7 linked regions of the Homo sapiens genome follow. Changing the gene in region 4 together with the main gene of any one other region gives a genetic interaction. Each region holds a gene or a part of one and is shown on either strand. Other genes may lie near its edges.

Region 1 (3,500 bases), on a different chromosome or scaffold from region 4:
GAAACCAAAAGACCCCAACATCCTTGACCAAGCTGTCTTTACAGGATGGACATAAAGCCAAAAAGCCAGCATGTAAATTTGAAGAGGGTCAGGATGTCCTAGCTAGATGGTCAGATGGCTTGTTTTATCTTGGCACTATCAAAAAGGCAAGTTACTTTAATGTATCTTTTGCTGTTTTTGCAGTAAGCATTTAATAATCTTAAATTTAACTTCATGTTTTTAATTTTAAGAGATCACCGTTAAGTATTTCTCTGTATTGCAGATAAACATATTGAAACAGAGCTGCTTCATCATATTTGAAGACAGTTCTAAATCCTGGGTTCTCTGGAAGGACATTCAAACAGGCAGGTGCTACTATTTCTCTTGAACATGATTTAAATTAAAATTTGATTTTCTTCAACTTGTCATATTATGATGTTGTCTGTTGAATACAGTGTATTTAGATAACTCAGTATTACTTCCTAGGAGAGGTTAAAAAATCAGCATAGTCGTTATTATAGACCATAAGAAGAACAAGAATACTCTAGAGGACAGATGCATCACTAATTTATACCTGTAAGCTATGTTAAGACCCTTCTAAGAACTTTGAAGAAAAATCTTTAGTAACTAATCTCAGTAACGGTTTGGGATTCAATTCAACTGTTGCTTGCTTATATTTGTAGAAAGCAAGTGTTTATTGGGAGCATACTGTTTGTCAGATGATTTGGGAAATTAGGACATATAAAACTGATTTAGAATAATAGAAATATTCGTTAATAAGAATGGTTTAAAATTACCATTTAGTTATGGGTTTTTTATGTTTAAATGGGAAAATGAGGCTATATTTGTGTGCCAATAAAAATGAATGAAAGTATGCCTTGGTTTGGTTATAGGTATGCTTCTTGTGATGATTTCTATTATTAGAAACCATGATTGTTTCATGCTTTTAGCATCTGCTAAATATAGATGTTTTACCAGGTACCTCTTTCATGCAAAGTACTTTTAAAAATTACAATCTCTACTAAAAGCCTGAGTATTTTAGCTGTTCATTAAAGCCCTACTTTTGGTTTTCCTTTTGCTGGGTTAATAGGCCTACACTAAGACCCGTGTTTTGTGTATTCTCATAGAAAAGAGATAAATTTTCTCCCTAAAGGGTAGACACCTTGCCAAAGTATTTAACAATTGGGTTTTATATTTGAATACCAAGTTCAATTTTATGGTAGGTTTCTGCCATGTTTTAGTTCTTGACTTTACTCTTAATGTTTCTTAAAGAATAAAAAAAGTTTTGGTAAAGGAATTGGAATGTTCTAATTACCATCTGTATAGTTGGTACTCAGGGCTTAGGTGGGGAACTAAGTAGCTTTTACTCTGGTAAAATGTTTTTCTGGAGAAACTTTTTATGGTTCCTGGACTGATAAGTTTAAAGGACTAAAATTACATTTTGAATCTGAAATTGAGGAGCCAGAGAAAAGTGTGACTCATAAGATTTAAAGGGATAGGAGATCTCCAACACTACTAATATTGAGCAGATCTTACTACCCTGCACACAAAATTATTCTTTTTTCCTTATTTTGTAAACATAGGTCTCTCTGTAATAGCAGTGAAACATGTTATGCTGCTTTTTACTCCCCTTCCATTAGCTATGTGTTTCTTTCAGCTTTTGAAGATCTTTTGGAGTTTCCTGTGGATTTAATGTAATAGGTCTGTCTGTCCTTTTGTCTACTTCCTCCTTTCTACTTCTCCTCTGCTTTTAAAAGTGGTAGAAAAGAAGAAAACCAATGTTACATAGAGATAGAAAGTTGTTGTGTGAGGGGTTCTATAAGTCCTGCACTCAGTATGTCAGTTTAATGTTCTGTGGTTGTTCTTTCTTCACTGGTTCCTTTTGCTGTTCTTGGAATTACAAAGGATTGCTCCTGGTCATTTAACTCTTCTTAGCACCCTGATATTAGCACATATGAAACTTATAGTTGCTATAAAAATGAATAAATGAATCTGAAACCTGCGTTATGGCATATTTCAGTGAGGAGTGGGTTTAGTAGTTTTCTTCCCTGTAAGAAATCTGCCAATAATGTATATCAAAACTTAATAAATTATATTTGTCTAATGAGTTTCTTTTAAAAATTTTACATAAAGAAAAATATTAGTAGTCAACAGGGTGAAATATATCATGTTACAACTATTACATAAATGTAAGAGGGTTTTGAATCTTAGCATCTAATGCTGTTTTGGTTTCTGTGAAATGATATACTCTTGCATTGCTGGTGGCAGTGTAAATTTCTATTTTGGTGGTTTAGCATTTGCATTAAATGCAGAAGTTTATAATTATCTAATAGACTCCTTTCTAGCAGTTTATTCATAAGAAGTAATTCAAAAAATACTAGGTGAAAAATGTTTCCTGAAGTTTATTTTAACAACAACAAAAAATTTGGTATTTCTAAGATGAAATGGCCAAGGCTTTCTAGTCAATTGGATTTAGAGTAAAGGAGACTATAGAAGATTACTAAGCTATATAGGAAGGTTCTTGTAAACTTGATGGTAAAAAATATATACATATATGTTTGATTTCACAAGTAAAAGTTAATTCCCAGCTTTCTCAGGATTGTTTCTTGGGTCACTACCCCCTTTTCTGAGGAATTGCCTTCCCCATCATTAGTCCAGGTAGTTACAGTGAGAGTCAGGTCAGGCACCTCCCCTCGCGGGGCTGTTGTTCCATTTCCAGGGAATTGTAAATTTTCACAGAGAGTTCCCAGGCTTAATCTGGTTGCTCTCATGATCGGAACCATAAACCCAGAAGCTATGGGAGACCACCTTCAACGAAGTGTACCAAGAAGCAAACAGCTGGGCGCAGTGCCTTATGTCTGCAATCCCAGTGCTTTGGGAGGCCCAGGCAGGAGGATTGCTTGAGCCCAGGAATTTGAGACCAGCTTGGGCAACACAGGGAGATCCTGTCGCTACAAAAAAAAAAAAAAAAATAGGCATGGTGACACACACGCCTGTGGTTCCAGTTACTTGGGAGGCTGAGGTGGGAGCATTGCTTGGGCTTGGGAAGTCAAGGCTGCAGTGAGCTGTGGCTGTGCCACTGCACTCCAGCCTGGATGACACAGCAAGACCCTATCTGAGGGGAAAAATAAAAGGAAGCAAACAAAGCAGAAGAGAGAGGATGAGAGACCAGAACAAACAAATAAATAGCAGAAATACAAAAGACAGATTTCTCCCCCTCCAAAAAAAGAAAAACAGTTGGTAACCTGTATGTCCGAGAGTAGAGTAATAATGAAGTAAATTGGGTTATTTCCACTAGATGTAATACTATGCAGCTATTAGAAGTTACAATTTTGAAATGAAAAATGATTTTCATTTTCAATTTTGAGTGAAAAATGCTTTTGATAGAAGAAATATTACATAGTATTGATGAAGCATCTCGTAGTGGAGAGAACATGGATTTTGGCACATCTGGATTTGAATCCTAGTCTTGATGTTTTCTCAGGGTCTTTGGGTTAGTTACTTTGTCTGAGCCTCAGTTC
Region 2 (3,500 bases), on a different chromosome or scaffold from region 4:
TAGGACATATAAAAGATTATAAATACAGAGCTTTATTATCCTGACGTCTTGGGTCTTTTAAGTATATACTTTTCTGAAAGGTATCCATTTTGTAGGCTTGGGTTCTTCATGAGCATACGATTGTTTATTTTTGCTGCTGTTCTCAACATCATCATTGCCTGCTGATGTGCCACGATGCTGCTCCAATAGACAGCAATAAGATTGTCTCTAATTTGAGCAGTAACATGATTGCAAGAGACCAAGTTTCACAGCTTGTAAAGTTCTGTATTTGGGATTCTTGCTTATTTTTCCGCCTGTGTTTTTCTGAGAACTTATTCCTGATGATCAATTGAATCCAGTAGTTTTTCTATGCTATTTGTTGTTGTATAAGCTACTGTAAGAAACTTATCATAAGGAAAAATAGAAAGGAAAACTTGAATCAATACTCATTGATTAAAATGGAATAAAGAAAGAGCAGCTGCCACTTTTAAACAACATAAAGGAATATCTTTTTTTGTCTCCGTGTAGGAAATCCCATAAGTTCTTATATTTGTTCCAGTTCCCATTTCCTGCCATTGACCAGATAACATCATTGACTTTCAAATGACTTTTAGAAGTGATAACTCTTAATTTCCTAATAGATACTAGATTGTATTGAATTCTGTTTTAATTATTCTCTAGGTAAGTATGTTTTAGGATTAAATACCTTTTACAGATACTGAAAGTGCCTCCTTTTGTGGTGTAAAAAACAAATTATGGTGCAAAAAGTAATCACTAGATTGAAATACATGAAGGTTTTTTGCTTTTTGACATACGAAAATGTCAAGAGAAAGGCCAAAGATTTGTACTTTTTCACTTACAAAGCACTCCTTTTTCCCTTAAACTTCTTTCTGTCAAATTAGATTTAATGAGAGAGTACTATTTTTAAGGAGCTATCTGTTTATGTAGAATGATTTTGTTAAGAGTAATGTAAACTATTATTGAGTAGAGGCCTAAAGAGGACTGTGCATTTTTGCTATTTAAAGGAATCACAAATGATCATACTTAAGTGAGCAAAAATGACAAGTTTTACTAGCTAAGTAGAGAAATAAATCTCAAATGCAGCGCTACAATTTTCATTATCTTAAGTACATTGTACATTTCTACAGAACCTGTGATTATTCTCGCATGATAAGGATGGTACTTGCATATGGTGAATTACTACTGTTGACAGTTTCCGCAGAAATCCTATTTCAGTGGACCAACATTGTGGCATGGCAGCAAATGCCAACATTTTGTGGAATAGCAGCAAATCTACAAGAGACCCTGGTTGGTTTTTCGTTTTGTTTTCTTTGTTTTTTCCCCCTTCTCCTGAATCAGCAGGGATGGAAGGAGGGTAGGGAAGTTATGAATTACTCCTTCCAGTAGTAGCTCTGAAGTGTCACATTTAATATCAGTTTTTTTTAAACATGATTCTAGTTAAATGTAGAAGAGAGAAGAAAGAGGAAGTGTTCACTTTTTTAATACACTGATTTAGAAATTTGATGTCTTATATCAGTAGTTCTGAGGTATTGATAGCTTGCTTTATTTCTGCCTTTACGTTGACAGTGTTGAAGCAGGGTGAATAACTAGGGCATATATTTTTTTTTTTTTTGTAAGCTGTTTCATGATGTTTTCTTTGGAATTTCCGGATAAGTTCAGGAAAACATTCTGCATGTTGTATCTAGTCTGATGTACTTATCCATCTCATTACAAACAAAAACACACAGACTGCATTTGTAGCTCTGTAATCCTTGAATACGGAAGTAAATTTTCTTCTTTCCTGACTTTGACATTGTAGCTATACTGTTTCCATTTTTGTTTTTACAAATCCTTTGGGTCTAATTCTGTGAGCCTACCTATAGCACTGGATTAAAATGTCTGCATCATTTCTTTAGTTATCCAGTTAACTTTAAAACTGTTGTAAAAGTGTAAACCAGCCCATGACAGGTTTTTGTACATGTTAAAGAACTTCATTGTTCAGTTTTCATGATTATTGTGTAAGGAAGACTGATGTAGATGTTCTGTGCTGTCCTGGACCATGTTAATTACACTTACGACGTATTTTAGTTCCACATCACAATGATTTGTCCCCAGTGACCCTTTTATCCTTTCTAGGCACATTTCTTGTTGTTGTTGTTGTTGCAGTTCCCCTTTGCATTGTATTGCTTTGACAACTGTAATTTGAATCAGATCTGAAAGAGGTCCAGAATAAAATATATTTTGATATTATGTTGGCTGTGTACATATATAAAACCTTTGATGTCTATGTAGTTTATATAGACTATTTACTAGTCAGGTAAAGAGAGAGGGATGGTATTTCTTGTTTACAGTTTGTTTACATTTTAATTGCTTTTACTTCTCCAGTGTTCTATTGTAGAATAAACCTTTTTTTCCAAGTTAGCCTTCATAACCTATAACACATTCATTCTCTCCCATACTGGTGTTACTGATTAATAACTGCCATCAGAACCCAAACCACTGTTTTTCATAAACGTATTGTTTCCCAAGATATATACTTTAAGCCCATAATAAAATTACAAATTTTACTATTTTTATTACTTCTTGCAGGAGATAAGATTTTTTTAAATGAAGGGGTTATTTACTATTTTTATTAAAGTATAATAGAGCATCTAATCAGCTAAGGGATTGTAATTTTTAATTCTTTTGAAAAATAAATATTGTATTTAAAAGACGTTATTTCACAGAAGCTGAAAAAGAGACCTTAGATAACATTTGTTTGGTTAGCCACACGGTTGAGCACAAAACAATGTGTAGATGTGTTGAAGATTAGGGCAGGAGGCTCAACTTCTCGGTGACCTTTTTTTGCTTCACAACAAGCCAATTATAGTTGAATCATTTTCTCTCTTAGCTAGTTGTTACTACAAACTTTATAAGAAAAACAACTAGACACCTTCTAGTTTTAATTAATACCAACTCCTTTAGAGTTAGAGACTTTTTAAAAAGAATCATTGAGCATATTTTCTTTTTTTTTTTTTTAAGAATTTACACTCTCTAGGTCTTCTATTTTTCCTGTTTATTTCCTTAAACAGAAATAAATTCAAGCATAGTTTTATGTTTTATTAGAAATAAGCCACTGCAGTTGCTAGAACTGACATGCTTTCATTTTCAAGGGGTTAACTTTTATTGCATGGCATAGATTATTAGTAATATCCTGCATTGTATACTTTTCCAAAAAGGGTTGGACTCCTAAGGATTAGAATCCTTATAAGCTTGAGGGAAAGCTGAAACTAATTTGAACAGTAATAGAAGGGATTATTTTTAATTTCATAGTTAACACTTTACAATGGATTAGATTTATTACCTAGTATAATCCGTAGCAGATCAGATCAAAGTTTACTGTTTTACCAATATATTCATTTGAAAAAATACAGTGGAGGAAAAGACACTTTAGATGGTAGTTTTATGGTGCTTTTCTCTGCTGTACCAAAGTGCTTTGTCATCAATGAAATGTTAACCCTATGCTACTTTTTCTGCATGCT
Region 3 (3,500 bases), on a different chromosome or scaffold from region 4:
GCCCCAGCTCCCCAGAGAGCCTGCACTCCTCTTTTTCTGAAAGACTTGGGCTAGATGAGGGCTGACTGGGAGAGAAGGCAGGGCTACCCCACCTGCCTCTTCTGCAGCCCTGACCTTGCTGTGGGGGTGGGGCCTGTCCACAGGTACCAGCCATCTTTCCATGGAGTGGACCTGTCGGCCCTCCGAGGTGCCGCGGTGGATGAGTATTTCCGGCAGCCTGTGGTGGTGAGTAGGGCCTCCAGGGTACTGCTGCAGTGATCACTTGCCATTGCTGTGCAGCTGTGCAGCCCTCAGGAAGCTACAGCCCCTCTCTGAGCCCTCTCCTCTGCCCTGCACAGCGCTCTCACAGAGATTTGGGCCAAAAGTGTCAATGCATGTAGACACTTAGCACACAGCACACATGCAATACATGTGGAACATTATTAGGTGAGGCTAAGGCAGAGGGGGCATTTAGGCTCAGGAGTTCAAGATCAGCCTGGGCAACACAGAGACGCCATCGCTATTTTTAAAATTAAAATAAATAAATAATAAAAATAAAAAAGAACCATTACTAGATGAATTTATCCTTGGTGAGCTGATGTGATTTATTGATTGATTTTACTTGAGATTTTTGATACATAGATCCATGATTTAAAAATCAAAAGGAAAAAAAAGCTAGGTGCAGTGGGTCACACCTGTAATCCCAGCACTTTGGGAGGCCAAGGCGGGCAGATCACGAGGTTAGGAGATTGAGACCAACACGGTGAAACCCCATCTCTACTAAAAATACAAAAAATTAGCCAGACGTGGTGGCGGGCGCCTGTAGTCCCAGCTACTCAGGAGGCTGAGGCAGGAGAATGGCGTGAACCCGGGAGGCAGAGCTTGCAGTGAGCCGAGATCGCACCACTGCACTCCAGCCTGGGCGACAGAGTGAGACTCCGTCTCAAAAAAAAAGAAAAAAAGGTTCCATTTTATTCTGTTTTCCCCCTGCTCTTGATGTTTTTCATTCGTTTTGGGAGACTCTTGGACTATCTTGGATACTATCTCTTTAAACACTACGTCTGCCCCATTCTTTCTCCTTCTGGGATTCCAATTACGTGTACAGTGAACCTTTTCACCATATCTCAGATGATTGTTATACTCTTTTCTGTCTTTTCCATCCATTTTTTTCTCTCATTTTCTTTTTCTTTTTTTTTTTTTTTTTGAGACGGAGTCTTGCTCTGTTGCCCAGGCTGGAGTGCTGTGGCATGATGTCAGCTCACTGCAACCTCCACTTTCCGGGCTCAAGCGATTCTCAGACTCCTGAGTAGCTGGGAGTACAGGCGCTTGCCACCACTCCCAGCTAGTTTTTTGTAATTTTAGTAGAGATGGGGTTTCGCCATGTTGGCCAGGCTGGTCTGAAACTCCTGACCTTAGGTGATCCGCCTGCCTCGGCCTCCCAAAGTGCTGGGATTACAGGCGTGAGCCACCATGCCCAGCGTGTTCAGTCTTTTGTGATATCACTGGGGAGTGAATGAGTGAAAAAAGCAGGAAATATTTTGGTGGTATTATGCAAATTTTGTATTATGATGAGGGTGCCTTGGAAGAGGCCACAGTTTGAGAAGGTGCTGCTTTATGGTACAGCCTTTGGTAATGTTAATGCAAGTCCAGTGGTTAGCCTCATTACCAATATGCTGCTGAACCACCCGTTAGCTTTTATTGTTTTTTGAAACAGGATCTCACTCTGTTCCCCAGGCTGGAGTACAGTGGCTCAATCACTTCATGGCTTACTTCAGCCTCGATCTCCCAGACGCAAGTGATCCTCCTGCCTCAGCTTCCCAAGTAGCTGGAACTATAGGAGTGTGCCACCATGCCCGGCTAATTTATTTTTTTGTAGATATGGGGCCTCACTGTGTTACTCAGGCTGGTCTTGAACTCCTGACCTCAGGTGATCCGTCCGCCTCGGCCTCCCAAAGTGCTGGGATTATAGGCATAAGCCACTGCACCTGGCGTTGAGCCTCTTATTAGCGGCTTTCTGCTTGGTGTCTTAGCCTCTGATGCCCTGCCTCGCTCAAAGCTCAGGAGTTGGCCAATTTCACAAGCGCACTGAGTGTGCACCGCCCACCTTGCCCTCCTGCACTTATTTCCCTTTGCTTTGACATCACAGCCCCTTGAATCCGAGCTGCCTTGGTAACCCTGAGCTCCCATTTTGCTTTCCCCACCCAAGGAAGCTGCTGAAAGGTCGAGGTGGCCGTTTTCTGCCCTCCCCATGGGGAAAAGGTAGAGGCCAGAAAGGGCTCCCTCCAGAAAGGGCATTTCCCTCCTTTCCAGGAGCTTGATCCCCAAAATCCTGGCCGCTCTGGTTGGTCACCAGTGCTTCCAACAACTGGTTTATTCTTTTCTTTGGATTTTATTCGGTTTACATAGTTCATGGCAGGTGTGTTAGTCGGATATAAACATTGCTGGGAGTGGACAGCAGCACTAGTGTTGTTGTTGTTTTTAAGAGACAGGGTCTCCCTGTGTTTCCCAGGCTTGATTCACACTCTCGGGCTTAAGCGATCCTCCTGCCTCAGCCTCCTGAGTAGCTGGAGTTACAGGCATACAATTCCACACCCAGCTAGCACCTAGTTCTTTAACTTGCTTTTTTGGTTAACTTGCTTAATGATTTAGCTTGGAGATCTTTCCTCATCTGTTCATAAAGAGCCTCTTCATTCTTTCTCACGTCCGCATGGTCTTTGATGGGAGAGCCATCACTGGTTTAATTAGATGGTTTCCAGTGTGTCGCTACCACGGACAATCTAATTATACATGTAAGTTTGTTGATGTGTTCATGTATCTGGAGGTTAAACTCCTGTAGTGCCAAATCTTTTATGTGGATAAACACTTGTCATTTGGAGAGCTGTCACCTGATTGCCCTCGGTGGCGTTGTGCCGGTCCCCTCCTCACGGCGTGTCTGGGAAGAGCAAGCTCGTTTTAGCTGCACAGCCTAGAAGCCGTGGGCAGACCTGGGGGAAGGGGCAGGGCTCTCCCCTCCCATGCTGGCCCTGGCGTCAGATGCCACGTCACACCTGTGGTCTCTCCCAGGACACATTTGACATCCGGATCCTGATGGCCAAGTCTGTCAAGTACACGGTGAACTTCTTAGAAGCCAAAGAAGGAGATTTGCACAGGTACTGGCACCCACACTCCATCCTCCCAGGCCTGGCTCAGGCCGAAGGTCAGGGCCACCCCTGGCTCCCGCCGGCATCCTGCCGTCCCAGGGCAGATGGTGGGCGGGGGCCCCAGGCCTCTGCACCTGGCACCCCCTCTTCTCTCTCGGCAGCGCCTGTCTGGCTTCCCCAGCAGCCACTGCCCTTTGCCTTCCAGGATAGAAATCCCATTCAAATTCCACATGCTGCATTCAGGGCTGGTCCACGGCCTGGCTTTCTGGTTTGACGTTGCTTTCATCGGCTCCATGTGAGTGCCGCAGAGCAGCCCATGCTGCCTCCTCCCCACTCCCAGGGCTTCCTGCAGCTGCAACCTGGCTGGGGGGGTGGAACATG
Region 4 (3,500 bases):
AAGTAACCATTCTACTGTAGCCAAACATCACAGAAAAAATTGTGGCTCTGCTTCCACAATCCCCAGGCAGTAATGAAGTAGCACCCTACCACCACCATTTCCCTTGTTGGAGTGGAGTGAGAGGAAGCCAACTAAACAGTGGTTTAAATAAGACCCAGAGTCTCATAACATAGTATCTAAAATACCCATGTTTCAATAGAAAATCATTCATCATACCTAGAACCAGGAAGATCTTAAATTGAATGAAAAAAAGATAATAGGTGCCAACAGTGAAATGACAGTGGTGTTTGAATTATCTTACAAAGATTTTAATGCAGCAATCATTAAAATGCCTCAACAAACAAGGAACATGCTTGAAACAGAAGAGTCTTAGCAAACAAACAATCTGAGCAAAAGAAATGCAAGATAAAAAAAAGAACCAAATAGGAATTTTAAAATAAAAAAAAATACAATAATTGAAATTTTAAAACTCTTTCAAAGCTCTTTGTACACTAGAAAAAAAAACTTAGTGAATGGACTCAACAGCAGAATGGAGATAAAGGAAAGAAATAGTGAACTGGATGATAGAACAATAGTAACTACTTAGTCTAAACTGCAGAGAGAAAATTGAGGAAACAAATGAACACTACCTCAGGGACTTATAGGACTGTAACAAAAGCTGACGTTATATGATGCATCATAAGTCCTAGAAGGAGAGGAAAAAGGAATGGCTCTGAAAAATACTCAAAGAAATAATGGCTGAAAACTTCTTAAATGTGGCAAAAAGTATATAAACCTACAGATTGAAGACAGCCCCAAAGAGGTTAAACCCAGACAAATCCACATGATGACGAACCTCTGTATGGTCAAATTTCTGAACGTGAAAGACAGAAAAAAAAATCTTGAAAGCAGCAAAAAATAGCACCCTACGTATAGGGGAAAAACAGTTCTAATGATAGCAGATTTCTCATCAGAAACCATGGAGGACAGAGAAAATAGCACAGTGATTTTTGTTTGTTTGTTTGTTTTTATTATACTTTAAGTTCTAGGTTACATGTGCACAACGAGCAGGTTTGTTACCTAGGTATATATGTGCCATGTTGGTTTGCTGCACCCACCAAGTAATCATTTACATTGGGTATTTCTCCTAATGCTATCCCTCCCCCAGCCCTTCAACCCCCAACAGGCCCCGGTGTGTGATGTTCCCTGCCCTGTGTCCAAGTGTTCTCATTGTTCAGTTCCCACCTATGAGTGAGAACATGCGGTGTTTGGTTTTCTGTCCTTGTGATAGTTTGCTGAGAATTATGGTTTCCAGCTTCATCCATGTCTCTGCAAAGGACATGAACTCAACTTTTTTATGGCTGCATAGTATTCCATGGTGTATATGTGCCACATTTTCTTAATCCAGTCTACCATTGATGGACATTTGGGTTGGTTCCAAGTCTTTGCTATTGTGAATACTGCCACAATAAACATACGTAGCACAGTGTTTTGCAAGAGCAGAAAGAAAAGAACTATCAGCCCAGAATTCTTTACCCAGCAAAGAAAAAAAAGAATTAGCAATGAAGGTGCAATCAAGACATTCTTAGAGAAGGAAAAACCAAGAATTTATTAGTAGCAGATTTGCATAAAAGAATGGCTAAAGGAAGTTTTCTAATAGAAGTGAAATGATTGAAGAAAGAATCTTAGAACACCATAAAGGAAGAAAAAAACATAAGAAACAAAAATATGGATAAATATGATAGACTTTTTTCTTCAAGTCTTGCAAATTATGTTTGATGTTTGAAGTATAAACAAGTAACCACTGTCTGATGTGATTATCAGTGTATTCCACAATATTATAAGCCATGGGGAATAAAGGGATTTGATTAGCCCACAGGAAGGCAGGAGAAGGAAAATAGAAAACAAAGTAAAATGTCAGATGTAAGCCCTCATATATCAATAACTAAATGTTGGTGGTCAAAATACACAAATCAAAAGGGATTAGCAGAGAGAATTTTAAAAACAATGACTTAGCTATATGGTATTTATAAGAAACTCACTCCAAATACAACAGTACAGTTAGGTTGAAAATAAAATGATAGGAAAAGTTATACAAATATTAATCAAAGGAAAACAGGAGTAGCTATATTAATATCACATAAACTTAAGGGCAGAAAAAAATTATCAGAGTGGGACATTATATAATGATAAAAGAATCAGCCCTCCAGAAAGATGTGACAGTGCTAAACATGCGTGTACCAGATATGTGAAGCAAAAACTGATAGACTGCGAGGAGAAATAGAGAAATTCACAATTACGGTTGGAGACTTCAGCATCCCTTAGGTGCTCACAGAATATATACCAAGATAGACCGTGTCCTGGGCCATAAAATAAACCTCAATAGATTTTAAAGTATTGAAATCATACGGAATGTATTCTCCAAACAAAATGGAATTAAACTAGAAATCAGTTTAACAGAAAATAGGAAAATCTACAAATACTTGGAAACTAAACAGTACGCTTCTGTGTGTCAGTGAGCAAGTCTTGAATTACAAAAAACACATTGAACTGAATGAAAATACAACATACCAATTTGTGGAAAATAGCTAAAACAGTGTTACGAGAGGGAAATGTATATCATTAAATGCACACAATAGAAAAGAAGAAGTCTCTTCCTTATACGTTATACAAAAATTAACTCAAGATGGATTAGAGATTTAAACATAAGACCTAAAACCATAAAAACCCTGGAAGAAAACCTAGACAATACCATTCAGGACATAGGCATGGGCAAAGACTTCATGACTAAAACACCAAAAGCAATGGTAACAAAAGCCAAAATTGACAAATGGGATCTAATTAAACTGAAGAACTTCTGCACACCAAAAGAAACTATCATCAGAGTGAACAGGCAACCTACAGAATGGGAGAAAAATTTTGCAATCTATCCATCTGACAAAAGGGCTAATATCCAGAATCTACAAAGAACTTAAACAAATTTACAAGAAAAAAACAACCCCATCAAAAAGTGGGCGAAGGATATGAACAGACACTTTTCAAAAGAAGACATTTATGCGGCCAACAAACATATGAAAACTCATTATTACTGGTCATTAGAGAAATGCAAATCAAAACCACAATGAGATACCATCTCATGCCAGTTAGAATGGCAATCATTAAAAAGTGAGGAAACGGCCGGGCGCGGTGGCTCATGCCTGTAATCCCAGCACTTTGGGAGGCTGAGGTGGGCGGATCACAAGGTCAGGAGATGAGACCATCCTGGCTAACAGGGTGAAACCCCATCTGTATTAAAAATATAAAAAATTAGCCAGGCGTGGTGGCAGGCGCCTGTAGTCCCAGCTACTTGGGAGGCTGAGGCAGGAGAATGGCATGAACCCAGGAGGCGGAGCTTGCAGTGAGCCAAGATCACACCATTGCACTCCAGCCTCGGCGACAGAGTGAGACTCTGTCTCAAAAAAAATAAAAGTGAGGAAACAACAGATGGTGGAGAGGATGTAGAGAAATAGGAACACTTTTAC
Region 5 (3,500 bases), on a different chromosome or scaffold from region 4:
CTGGAAAAAATATTTGTTTAATTAATGTATCAATATAGTAATTTCTTTTAACCATTCTTATTTTTTTTTTCTTTTAAGTCTCCTTAATCTTTGCTCCTTGAAAAACCAAGATCACTTGCTAAAACTTACTGTTTCTAGCTTGGACTATAGCAGAGATGGATTGGCTAGAGTCATCCTTTCCAAAATTTTAACTGCAGCTACTGATGTGAGTATAACATAGCCAGTAAAACTATATTTATAACCAATTAATTCACTACTTTATGAATTTTGGGCTAAGTAAAATTAAGTTCTAAGAATATGATATGGAAATTGAGTTTACTTTAAAATTTTAGTTTCTCCAAGGAACTGCATATAGTACTCAGATTTTTGTATCGGGGGAAGAAGCTGCTAGATAGAAAGGGAAGTATTCTATTTCACAAGAACCAAAAAAGTATTCATATCAAGGGCTAGACCACCAATTCCAGGCATTCTTCCCTTTTCAAGTAGCAGGACTATCCCAAAATAAAATCAAATAGGCTATTTATGCTGAAGTTTTTTTTTTTTTTAATGTATTCATTTATCCTTATAGGCCTGCAGACTCTATGCAACAAAACATTTAAGGGTATTATTGAGAGCTAATGTTGAATTCTTTAATAATTGGGGAATTGAGTTGTTAGTGACCCAGCTACATGATAAAAACAAAACGATTTCCTCTGAAGCTCTTGATATCCTCGATGAAGCATGTGAAGACAAGGTAAAGGTTCATTTTTTATAATTTAATACTTAAATTTTTTTGAAATACTCATTTGACAATTATGTAAAAGTATATAATAGGCATTTTGGAACTAAAAATTTTGCTATTTTTGTGCAATTATAAAAAAATAATGATAATCTCTTTTAGGCCAATCTTCATGCTCTCATTCAGATGAAACCAGCGTTATCCCACCTTGGAGACAAGGGTTTGCTTCTCCTGCTGAGGTAAATTTTAAGTAAATTTTCTGTTATGTTTTTTTGTTGTGTTCTTTGGCAGTGTATATTAAAGATAGATTCAAATCCAAATGGGAAGTACGCTGAAGAGTTTACCTTTTAATATTGAAACATTGTCTTTTCATTATTTTGGGTTTTTCTTTTTTTTTAATTTTTTTGGTCTGTTCATACTTTTCATGACATTTTCCTTTTTTTTATTGAGACGGCCTCGCTTTGTCATCCAGGCCAGAGTGCAATGGTCCAATGTTGGCTCGATGCAACCACTGCCTCCCAAGTTCAAGTGATTCTCCTGCCTCAGCCTCCCAAGTAGCTGGGACTAAAGGCGCACACCACCACGCCCAGCTAATTTTTTGTATTTTTAGTAGAGTTGGAGTTTCACCATGTTGGCCAGGCTGGTCTTGAACTCTTGACCAGGTGATCCACTCACCTTGGCCTCCCACAGTGCTGGAATTACAGGCGTGAGCCCCCGTGCCTGGCTGACATTTTCTTTATTGTGATTGGGTTCGCGTGTTGTTGCAAAGATTGTGAAAATTTATTTGTAATTGAAGTTATAATAAATTATAGTTGACCTTTTAGTTTTAGGAACGAACTATTCCTAAAGTCTTTTAGCTCCTTATACTTTTTTAAATTTTAGTTATTTTAGCTTCTTAAGATACGTTTTTGCCAGACTCAATGTTAAACTATTGCTTGTTTTAATTTGCAGATTTCTCTCCATTCCAAAAGGATTTTCCTATCTGAATGAAAGAGGTTATGTAGCAAAACAATTGGAAAAGTGGCACAGGGTAACTTCTTATTTGAATAAAGTTGAATTTGTGTGTTTTTATCTTCTGAAATTGATTTGTGAATTTAGAGGATGGTTTTTTTATATCAGTGTTTTGAAATTAATAAGGTTAAATATTTAAACATCAATATCAAGTTGAATCCTAAATTCTGCATAATTGCTAGTATTTATAGTTATACATTTTTTTAAACTACAGTTATTTCTTTCATTCTGAACTGTTGACTGTATTCGTTCTATTGAAATTTGACTCTCAACTCATTTGATTTTATAATCTAATTTTTGGCCCTGTTTATCATTTCTTTCATTCTTCGGTCCCTTAATATGGCCTACAACTTTGCATGAGCCCTTTAAGCTAAAACCAAAATAATTTTTTTAAATGAAGGGAGATTGAAATCCCAAGGAGATATAATCATTTAGTTAAACTTTACTTTAGGATACTACTTTACCTAAATCTGAGAATGAACTTCTTGCTGTCATAGGGAAACCTGCTAAGAAGGGAGTAGTTTGAAGATATGAAACAACTTTTCTAGCTTTTCTTTAGCTGGTGATTGCTGTGGCTTCATTATTTTGTTTGAAGTATTATAAGTCATCGAAGCATCTTGGAAACCCATGGTCAAAATGATCTTTACCGATATAAATGATTTTTAGATTTTTCATCATTTCAGATCAGTTATCCTGTTTTCTCTTTTTTGTTAACATAGTTACACATTCTTTTATAGTGTCTATATTGAACCATATTTCATAAGAGATACTCCTTAAATGGACTAAAACTTCCAAGCATACAACTTAAGGCATGAAGTCTTTTAGTATTTGATGAATTGTAGAACTGAGACAAGATGTGATAGGTTTGTTTCCTAGAAGATATTTAAATCATCATAATAAAATTTATTATACAAATCATAGTATTAGAAAATTGCTTAGAATATTGGTGCAGTGCTTGAAAATAGCATAAAATATAAGAGCTATAACAAAGTTACATGCAAGGTATAAGGGAACACAGAGGAGAGATTAATGATTCTGCCTTAGGGATTATCAAAAGAAATGTTGAATAGGAGCCGTAGATGTGATACTTGAAATGGTCTTGAGGAGTAAGTAGGCAAATAAATTAGAAGAAGGGTATCCACGGAAGAAGGAGCAGAATAAAGCTGTATAGATCATTGGAACATTATAGACTTATGAAGAAAGTCATATTCCAATGTAGTTGGAACTAAGGTAAGTGTGGAGTGGCAAGATGAGGCTGGAATGGTAAATTAAAGCTAGATTGTAAAAGGCCTCGTAAGCCATATTATATCATCCTAAGGGATTTCAATTGTATATATAGTGGGGAATCCTTAACAGCTTTTAAAGAGTGATCAGAGTTGTGCTTTAGTAATCTGACAGGTTGCAGTGAAGAGGAGGAATTTTGATCATTGAAGGTAAAGTCTAGAAATATTGACACAAGTTTAGAAACAAGAATTGATGAGTGCCTGAACTTCACTGGTAGTTAGGTTGATTAGATGAGGACGCATTTTCTGGGTATTTTCAAAATAAGATGGACAGAATTTGTGGGCTGATTGGATACAGTAAATAAGAGGTCCAACTTGGCTCATAAGGTTTCTAATTTAATGACAATATATAATGGATCACTATTAAGAGATCACATTTATAAAAAGTGATTCAAGATTAGGCTAATGAATTTTCAATATGTTGAACTGGCATTGTCTGTGCAGTAACCACGTGATGGCTTGAAAATGTGGATCTGGAGCTCAGATTT
Region 6 (3,500 bases), on a different chromosome or scaffold from region 4:
CTGGGAAGCGCTCTCCTAGCACGTCCATTTCCAGGAGGAGAAGCAAGCAGATGAGAGGTTTTCCATTTTGTCATCCAAGGTAGCTGTGCACTTGCCTTGTTGCTGAAGTTCCAATAATGTGAAAACCAAAGTAGAGGTTTTTTTCTTCTTCTTTTTGTTTTCTATTAATTTCACTTATACCAAAGTGTTTGAAAGTATGAAATGTGTTGCTTCTGAGTTATATAAGGCTACTTCATGACAAGACTGCTTTGTAATATTTCACTTTGTTTTACTACAAATTCAGATCACTTTGTTTTACTATAAATTCAGATTATCCAAATATTTTCCTAATACTATGTGGGAATGCTGATTTTCTTTTGTTACGTAGTGGAAACATTTTGCATTGTTTACATAGTTCTCATGGAACATGGAAATTTTTGAAAGTGATATATGATACACATTTTTTGTGTATGTATTCTAATTAGTGTGAATAAAGCAGTAACATTAATGCATTTTTTAAGCAGCAAACTTATGTATTTCTCTTGTCTTCCTTAAAAGTGTCCCCATGAACTCAGTGTTTATTCCCTTTTCATTTTGAGTACCTGCTTATATGGTCAGTATGTAACGTTAGCATTGGCTCCTAATGGTAGAATTAGAACAGCAAGATTGTAGAGCTGTAATTGACTCCAGACAACATAGATTTCAGCCACCTCATTCTACAGCTGAGGCCAGGACAATAAATGCCTTTCCCAGACTGGGTAGTGGCAGATCTGGGATGGAATATGGTTTTCTTGATTCCCTTTCAGCCTTCATTTCTCTCTCTCAGGACTACTACTTTTTAATTACTTTTCACTTAATTTCCCAATACTGATGAAATAAAGAAAAATGAGGGTTATTTATATACATTTCAATAAAATCCAATTTGATTTTTCAACTTACATCTGATTTTTGTTTGTGTCATTCAGCCTGTCTTCTGAGTAATGGGCAGAGAAGGACCAGGGTTCGTAGAAGAAGCATGTGGCAGCTGAGTGGCAGCAGTCTTGCCCTTTCATTTTAATACTTGAGTACACAGAAAATAGAATTTTTGAGTGACTCTGCCTGTGGATATATATACTCATACATACATATATATATATACACACACACATATGTATGTATGTATGTATTACTATTCAGTCTCTTAAAAACCAAAAAACAGTAGATCCCCTGAGGGTAGAGTCTTTATGTATGAACATATTGTTCACTGTTGTAACCACCTTGCAGGATTTCAGTCTATAAACTAGGTGAGAATCCAGCTGCTGAGTGAAGCTTGATCTCTGCCTCTTCCTCAGGAGCAGCTCATCCCCTGACAACCTCCCCTCCCAGCCCCTAATCTGGTTTAATGCCCTCCTTTTCCCCAGATAAAGAAAGTCATGTCTGTAGTTATTCCAAAAGTGTTTCATGTGTAGAGTTTGGCACAAAAAGTAAAAAGCGCCAGCATCTGAAGTCAAAGGTGAAAGAGTCATCACAGTACTGATGAAGACACCCAGGCCTCGTCAGCTATGTTAACGTGCTGTATGACAAGAGGAACCTGCTTTCTAAGTCTGCTGGACACGCGTGCTTCTTGAATCCAACCAGACAAGCATGTTTTCTCAAAACCACAGTATAAGACAAGGAAACTGCACAGATTCGAGTGATTTTTGAGGTAAGTATGTTATTGGAAAGGTGTGATCTATATAGAACCCTGTACATGAAAAGGAGGAGATGCCGCTATCTTGGCAGGGATGATCATGTATTTGAAATAGTAACTCACAGCATTTGGTCTCATGATAAGAGTACTGAAGATTATCCCAGAAAACCTAGGATGATTGGTATTTATAGTACCATTGTTTCAGGTTTTTATGACTTGAGGCATCTAACTATCTTAATGCTGTACTTTAGTGTTTACCAAGCAGCTTTCTGGTGGAAACTTGAACTGCAGACACTGAGTGTTTTGGTTTTCCTCCAAGTTATAGTTCTCATTGTAACTTAATAAGTTGGCATTCCAGCTTAGTTTGAGTCAGTTTCCCAGGGCTGGGTCCTCAGAGGAGAGTGGATAGAATTCAGTTCCTCTATGAGCTGGGGTGCTGACATTGTGTTCCTGCTGTTGACTGTCCCTGCGGTGCACGGGACAGACTGTCAGCTAACCTGTCTTCATGACATTTCTATAATACTCCTCAGGGGGTTAACCCCATCTCTACTAAAAATAAAAAAAATTAGCTGGGCATGGTGGCATGTGCCTGTAGTCCCAGCTACAGGAGGCTGAGGCAGGAGAATTGCTTGAACCCAGGAGGTGGAGGTTGCAGTGAGTTGGGATCTCGCCACTGCACTCTAGCCTGAGTGACAGAGCGAGACTCTGTCTCAAAAAAAAATAAATGAATAAAAAATAAAACAGCAACTCTTGCAGATTTCCCGAATGTATTGGTCCCAGAGAACACTGAAAATAATGTCATGTTGTTAACACCAGTGGGAGTTTGGGAAATAATTCCAGCTCTTTAATACTTCTTTCAGCTTCAGATTAAGTGAAATGAGTTTCACATATTTCAATATATGAAATTTTATGATGACACATAAAACAGGCCAGGGGTTATTGAGGACACATCTGTGAGATAGTGGGCAATGCTACATATTCGTTAGTGGATGTGCTGCAGTTCAGGTTCATGGACAGGTGGGACTGGTGTGGTTGGGATAACCCACCATGTTTGTCTTTCATTTCTTGTATAAAGAGTGGTTTTTAAAAGACCTTACTATGGAATTTTCACAAATACTCAAAAGTATGGAGAATGGTACAGTGAATCCCCATGTGCCCTTTTCCCAGCTTCAGGGGTGGTGTCAGTGATAATGATTTGGCTCTGTGTCCCCACCCAAATCTCATCTTGAATTGTAATCCCCACGTGTCAGGGGAGGGACCTGGTGGGAGGTGATTGGATCATGGGGGCTGTTTCCCCATGCTGTTCTTGTGATAGTGAGGGAGTTCTCACAAGATCTGATGGTTTTAAAAGTGGCAGTTTTCCCTGCACTCTCTCCTGCCACCTTGTGAAGAAGGTGCCTGCTTCCCCTTTGCCTTTCGTCACAATTGTAAGTTCCCCGAGGTTCGTCATGATTGTAAGTTTCCTGAGGTCTCCCCAACCATGCAGAACTGTGAGTCACTTGAACCCCTTTTGTTTATAAATTGCCCAGTCTCAGGTAGTACCTTGATAGCAGTGTGAAAATGGACTAATACAGTCAGGGACCTAAAAGACAGGTAAAGAGATGTGGCCAGGTGAAGACGGAAAAAGGACAGTGCATTCCAGACCTGTGGAAAGACGCGAGGTTGGAAAGAACATCACAACTGGGGCGACTGAAGAAATTATGTTGTTAAGCACGAAATGCAGAGAGAGAGCTATGTGAATGTGTTGAGTGTGATTTTCATTAAACAATTTTTAAAGAAAGCATTTCTAGTGGTGCTTTTATTTTTGCAGCCGCTTAATAGCATTCACTCTTGTTGAAAGGAGCACAGTTTG
Region 7 (3,500 bases), on a different chromosome or scaffold from region 4:
CACAGCAATTGAAAATGATTCTGTTTAGAAGGCAGACATTCTCCCACACCCTTGAGGCCCAGGGCTCACTGCTGGTGTACAGCATGAAGTGGACAGGAGAGTTGATTCAGTCCATGAACATTTCAGGAAGTTAGAAGTCTATAGTTGTGGATTGCAAAATACATATCTGGCCTGCCTCCCATTTCCTGGCTAAAATACTTGGAATCTCCGAAGTGATGATGTCTTTTTGTACCCTAATGAGTTGACCAGTGATGGGCAGCCCCTACGAAACTTCAGGGTAGGGCTAGTCACAGGGCCAAGGCAGGATTAGAGGGTTTCAGCCCCACCCTCCAATTTTCCCAGAGTGGAGAGGGACTGAAGATTGAGCTGGTCACCAATAGCCAATAATTTAATCAATCACACCTATACCATGAAGTCACACTTTTGCCTTCAGTAGTTAACAGCATCTACAGCCCCGTGTTTCCACATTTGTACAAAGGAATGTTCAGACTGAACCACACTTAAGTACAATTTTGAAACAGCATGAGGCTGGGCGTAGTGCCTCACGCCTGTAATCCCAGCACTTTGGGAGGCTGAGGCGGGTGGATCATGAGGTCAGGAGATTGAGACCATCCTGGCGAACATGGTGATACCCCGACTCTACTAAAAATACAAAAAAATAGGCCAGGTGTGGTGGTGTGCACCTGTAGTCCCAGCTACCCGGGAGGCTGGGGCAGGAGAATGGCGTGAACCCGGGAGGTGGAGCTTGCAGGGAGCAGAGATCGCGCCACTGCACTCCAGCCTGGGCAACAGAGCGAGACTTTGTCTCAAAAAAAAAAAAAAGAAAAAAAAGAAACAGCATGAAATTCCTTGTTGATGGGAAATACCCGAAAGGCCTGCCTGGGTTTTCAGAGAGCTTCCAGAAAGCTGAATTCATGGAGGTTCCTGGAGAATGGCACAGCCAGGAGGGAAAGGTAGCGCCGTGTCTCTTCCCTCATACACCGCCCACTGCATCTCTCCATCTGTATCCTTTGTAACATCCTTTATGAAAAACCAGTAACCTTTAGTGTTTTTCTGAGTTCTGTGAGCCACTCTAGCAAATTAATTGAACCCAAGGGGAAGGAGTTATGGGAACCCTGATTTATAGATGGCTGTCCAGAAGCACAGGTAAAATAACCTGGAGTTTGTGATTGCCTCCAGGTAGACAGTGTCAGAATTGAACTGAATTAAACGACACCTAGCTGGTGTCTGCTGCAGAACGCAGAACTGGTTGCTTGCTTGGCATGTAGGGAGAAACCCCTGCTCATGTGGTGTGAGAAGCGACCTGTGTTATAAGAGTGTGTGAGAAACTGAGTTTGGGTTTTCCTATGTCCTCAAAATAGTATATTTTGAAAGCCTTCTAGGCAGAATGTATTAAAATAGTTTTTACTCCCTGAAGGGATGCCAGCAAGCTAGAAAGATTCATTTCCAAAGGGCTTCCAGTGGTAGCATGGCTAGACATGAGACATCTTTCCATTTGTGTCATACAGCAAGTTATTTTTGCAGTACCATATACGCTATGCGGGAAACTTTTAAGTATTTTATAGGTTTGATTTAGGTACAAATGGCCAAGAAGCTATCATCTATACTCATCCTGGGGATTGGGAACGGAGGCAGTTAGATGTGCCTGTGCTTTGTACCTTCTGTAGATGGGAATGCAGTTGCTCACTCACCAATCAAATTTATTGATTTATATTTAAAATACTATGAATACATCTTCTGGCAATTTTGGTGGTGACATTTTCCTTAAAATATTTGTACTAGCCAGGCACTGTGGCTCACACCTGTGTAGTGCAATCTACTTGGGAGGCTGAGGCAGGAGAGTGGATCACTTGAACCTAGGAGGTCAAGGTTGCAGTGAGCTGTGATCATAACCACTGCACTCCAGCTTGAGTAACAGAGCAGGACCCTTAGCTCTTAAAAAAATTTATACCTACTCATCAGCTGAGGACCTGGGGGCAGGTTTAGAAAACAGATTTTGAACACACATCCTTCCCTCCCTCTTGTGTCTGACATCACTGAGCTGCCACACTTTTGCCTTCAGTAGTTAACAGCATCTACAACCCCATTTTCCCACATTTTTATGGTCAAAAGAATGTTCAGACTGACCCACACATGAGTACAGTTTTTAAAAAGCATGCAATTCCTTGTTGATGCGATAGGTTTTTCGTGACGAACTTAATTTTTAGGGAAAGCACATCTGCAGATGTGTACAGTTGATCTTCATGAGCCCTATGGGCCTGATAAACATTCTTTTGCCATTGTTTTCTCCTCTCCTTGGTGGTGAGTCACTTGTGCAGTGCCCAGCGGAAGAGGGTGGGAGGCTGGGGAGGAAGGCCTGTTCTGGGCAAAGGAAGCCCTGCTTGATGAGCATGAGGCTCCACGGGGGCAGTGGCTGTGACGGTGAGTGCCACACAGAGCTGCCCACACTGGTGGAGGGAAGGCAGGGAGATACCAGGACCATCCGGAAGGGGCTGAGTGTCATTTGACAGGTGCCATGTGAGCAGAGATGTGAAGGAGTGGCCCGGGACAATCAGGGCAGAATCCCTGAGGTGAGTGCGCTGGCTGGCAGAGTTTGGAGACCTGTCAGGAGTAGGGTGCATACTGGGTGGGAAGCCTGCTGGGGTGTGCAGTGGCCCTCGGAGGGGGTCCGCGGTTCCCAGAAAAAGGAATTTGGTAATCTGTGGTGGCATTTTTGGGTGGCAGCACTGGCACCTTTGGCAGTGGCAAGAACACTTCCTGTCTGACCTTCATGTAGGGGAGGTCGTCTGATGTCCCAGACCTGTTATAAATATGAAAAAAAAATTTTTGTGCATAGTTTTAACAGGTGTTCTGAAGTTCCAGGAACAAAATCACCTTATAAATCAAAGATGACTGTGTATTGTTCTCTTCAGAATCACAGCAAGAATTCAGTTTCCAGAAGGAAAAGCTACAGTAGTTGCTTCATGGACATGGCTTGCCCTTGAGGTTGGTGGTGTCAGTGCATGAGCAGCCTGGTAAGGGTGGTTCTCTGGCCGCCACCCTTGGTCCTCTAGCGTGGTTGTGAAGTCACTTTCCTTTACTCCCCATTGCATCATAGTTGGGACAGAGCAGTGGTTCTCTGCCGTCTTGTGCGAGTGCTGGGATGCTGTCTCTACTTCCTTTTGGGTTGCCAGAGGCAGCATTTAGAGCACAGTGTGGGCATTATGTTGTGGACCAAGGCAGCCTATTGCAAGGACCTGATCGGGCGGCAGCCGTGGGGCAGCTCTGAGTAGAACATCGGGTCACCTGGCTGACTGGTGTGCTGAGAACACGCAGGAGGAGGCTGGAGACGGGGTTCTTGCCTGGGGAACAGGAGGGAGGCTACTCGCATCACAGCGGAGAATGCCTGTTGGGTTTGGGAGGGGGGTTTCGGCTGCAAAGCTGGCTGTCAAGGGGCAGGAATTGGGAGGAGGGTCTAAAGTCTTGAAGAGAAATGTGGGGTCGTTGTGTAGGGGCCACCA

What was found.
Region 1: changes in RAB2A (region 4) and MTF2 together harm fitness more than expected from each alone (negative genetic interaction), as found in Homo sapiens cells (one large-scale study listed by BioGRID).
Region 2: changes in RAB2A (region 4) and TBL1XR1 together harm fitness more than expected from each alone (negative genetic interaction), as found in Homo sapiens cells (one large-scale study listed by BioGRID).
Region 3: changes in RAB2A (region 4) and CARM1 together harm fitness less than expected from each alone (positive genetic interaction), as found in Homo sapiens cells (one large-scale study listed by BioGRID).
Region 5: changes in RAB2A (region 4) and RICTOR together harm fitness more than expected from each alone (negative genetic interaction), as found in Homo sapiens cells (one large-scale study listed by BioGRID).
Region 6: changes in RAB2A (region 4) and SEC23IP together harm fitness more than expected from each alone (negative genetic interaction), as found in Homo sapiens cells (one large-scale study listed by BioGRID).
Region 7: changes in RAB2A (region 4) and ARF1 together harm fitness more than expected from each alone (negative genetic interaction), as found in Homo sapiens cells (one large-scale study listed by BioGRID).

Annotation. Positions count from the first base shown.
Region 1 is NC_000001.11:93,110,283-93,113,782, forward strand, and holds part of MTF2 (metal-response element-binding transcription factor 2), read left to right. Parts: coding exon 1-146; intron 147-262; coding exon 263-344; intron 345-3,500. UniProt on the Homo sapiens protein: Polycomb group (PcG) protein that specifically binds histone H3 trimethylated at 'Lys-36' (H3K36me3) and recruits the PRC2 complex, thus enhancing PRC2 H3K27me3 methylation activity.
Region 2 is NC_000003.12:177,019,483-177,022,982, reverse strand, and holds part of TBL1XR1 (F-box-like/WD repeat-containing protein TBL1XR1), read left to right. Parts: 3' UTR 1-3,500. UniProt on the Homo sapiens protein: F-box-like protein involved in the recruitment of the ubiquitin/19S proteasome complex to nuclear receptor-regulated transcription units. Plays an essential role in transcription activation mediated by nuclear receptors.
Region 3 is NC_000019.10:10,916,553-10,920,052, forward strand, and holds part of CARM1 (histone-arginine methyltransferase CARM1), read left to right. Parts: intron 1-143; coding exon 144-225; intron 226-3,042; coding exon 3,043-3,128; intron 3,129-3,324; coding exon 3,325-3,414; intron 3,415-3,500. UniProt on the Homo sapiens protein: Methylates (mono- and asymmetric dimethylation) the guanidino nitrogens of arginyl residues in several proteins involved in DNA packaging, transcription regulation, pre-mRNA splicing, and mRNA stability.
Region 4 is NC_000008.11:60,593,487-60,596,986, forward strand, and holds part of RAB2A (ras-related protein Rab-2A), read left to right. Parts: intron 1-3,500.
Region 5 is NC_000005.10:38,955,900-38,959,399, reverse strand, and holds part of RICTOR (rapamycin-insensitive companion of mTOR), read left to right. Parts: intron 1-78; coding exon 79-205; intron 206-568; coding exon 569-733; intron 734-880; coding exon 881-957; intron 958-1,669; coding exon 1,670-1,748; intron 1,749-3,500. UniProt on the Homo sapiens protein: Component of the mechanistic target of rapamycin complex 2 (mTORC2), which transduces signals from growth factors to pathways involved in proliferation, cytoskeletal organization, lipogenesis and anabolic output.
Region 6 is NC_000010.11:119,941,230-119,944,729, forward strand, and holds the end of SEC23IP (SEC23-interacting protein), read left to right. Parts: 3' UTR 1-3,428; downstream 3,429-3,500. UniProt on the Homo sapiens protein: Plays a role in the organization of endoplasmic reticulum exit sites. Specifically binds to phosphatidylinositol 3-phosphate (PI(3)P), phosphatidylinositol 4-phosphate (PI(4)P) and phosphatidylinositol 5-phosphate (PI(5)P).
Region 7 is NC_000001.11:228,085,708-228,089,207, forward strand, and holds part of ARF1 (ADP-ribosylation factor 1), read left to right. Parts: intron 1-3,500. UniProt on the Homo sapiens protein: Small GTPase involved in protein trafficking between different compartments. Modulates vesicle budding and uncoating within the Golgi complex. In its GTP-bound form, triggers the recruitment of coatomer proteins to the Golgi membrane.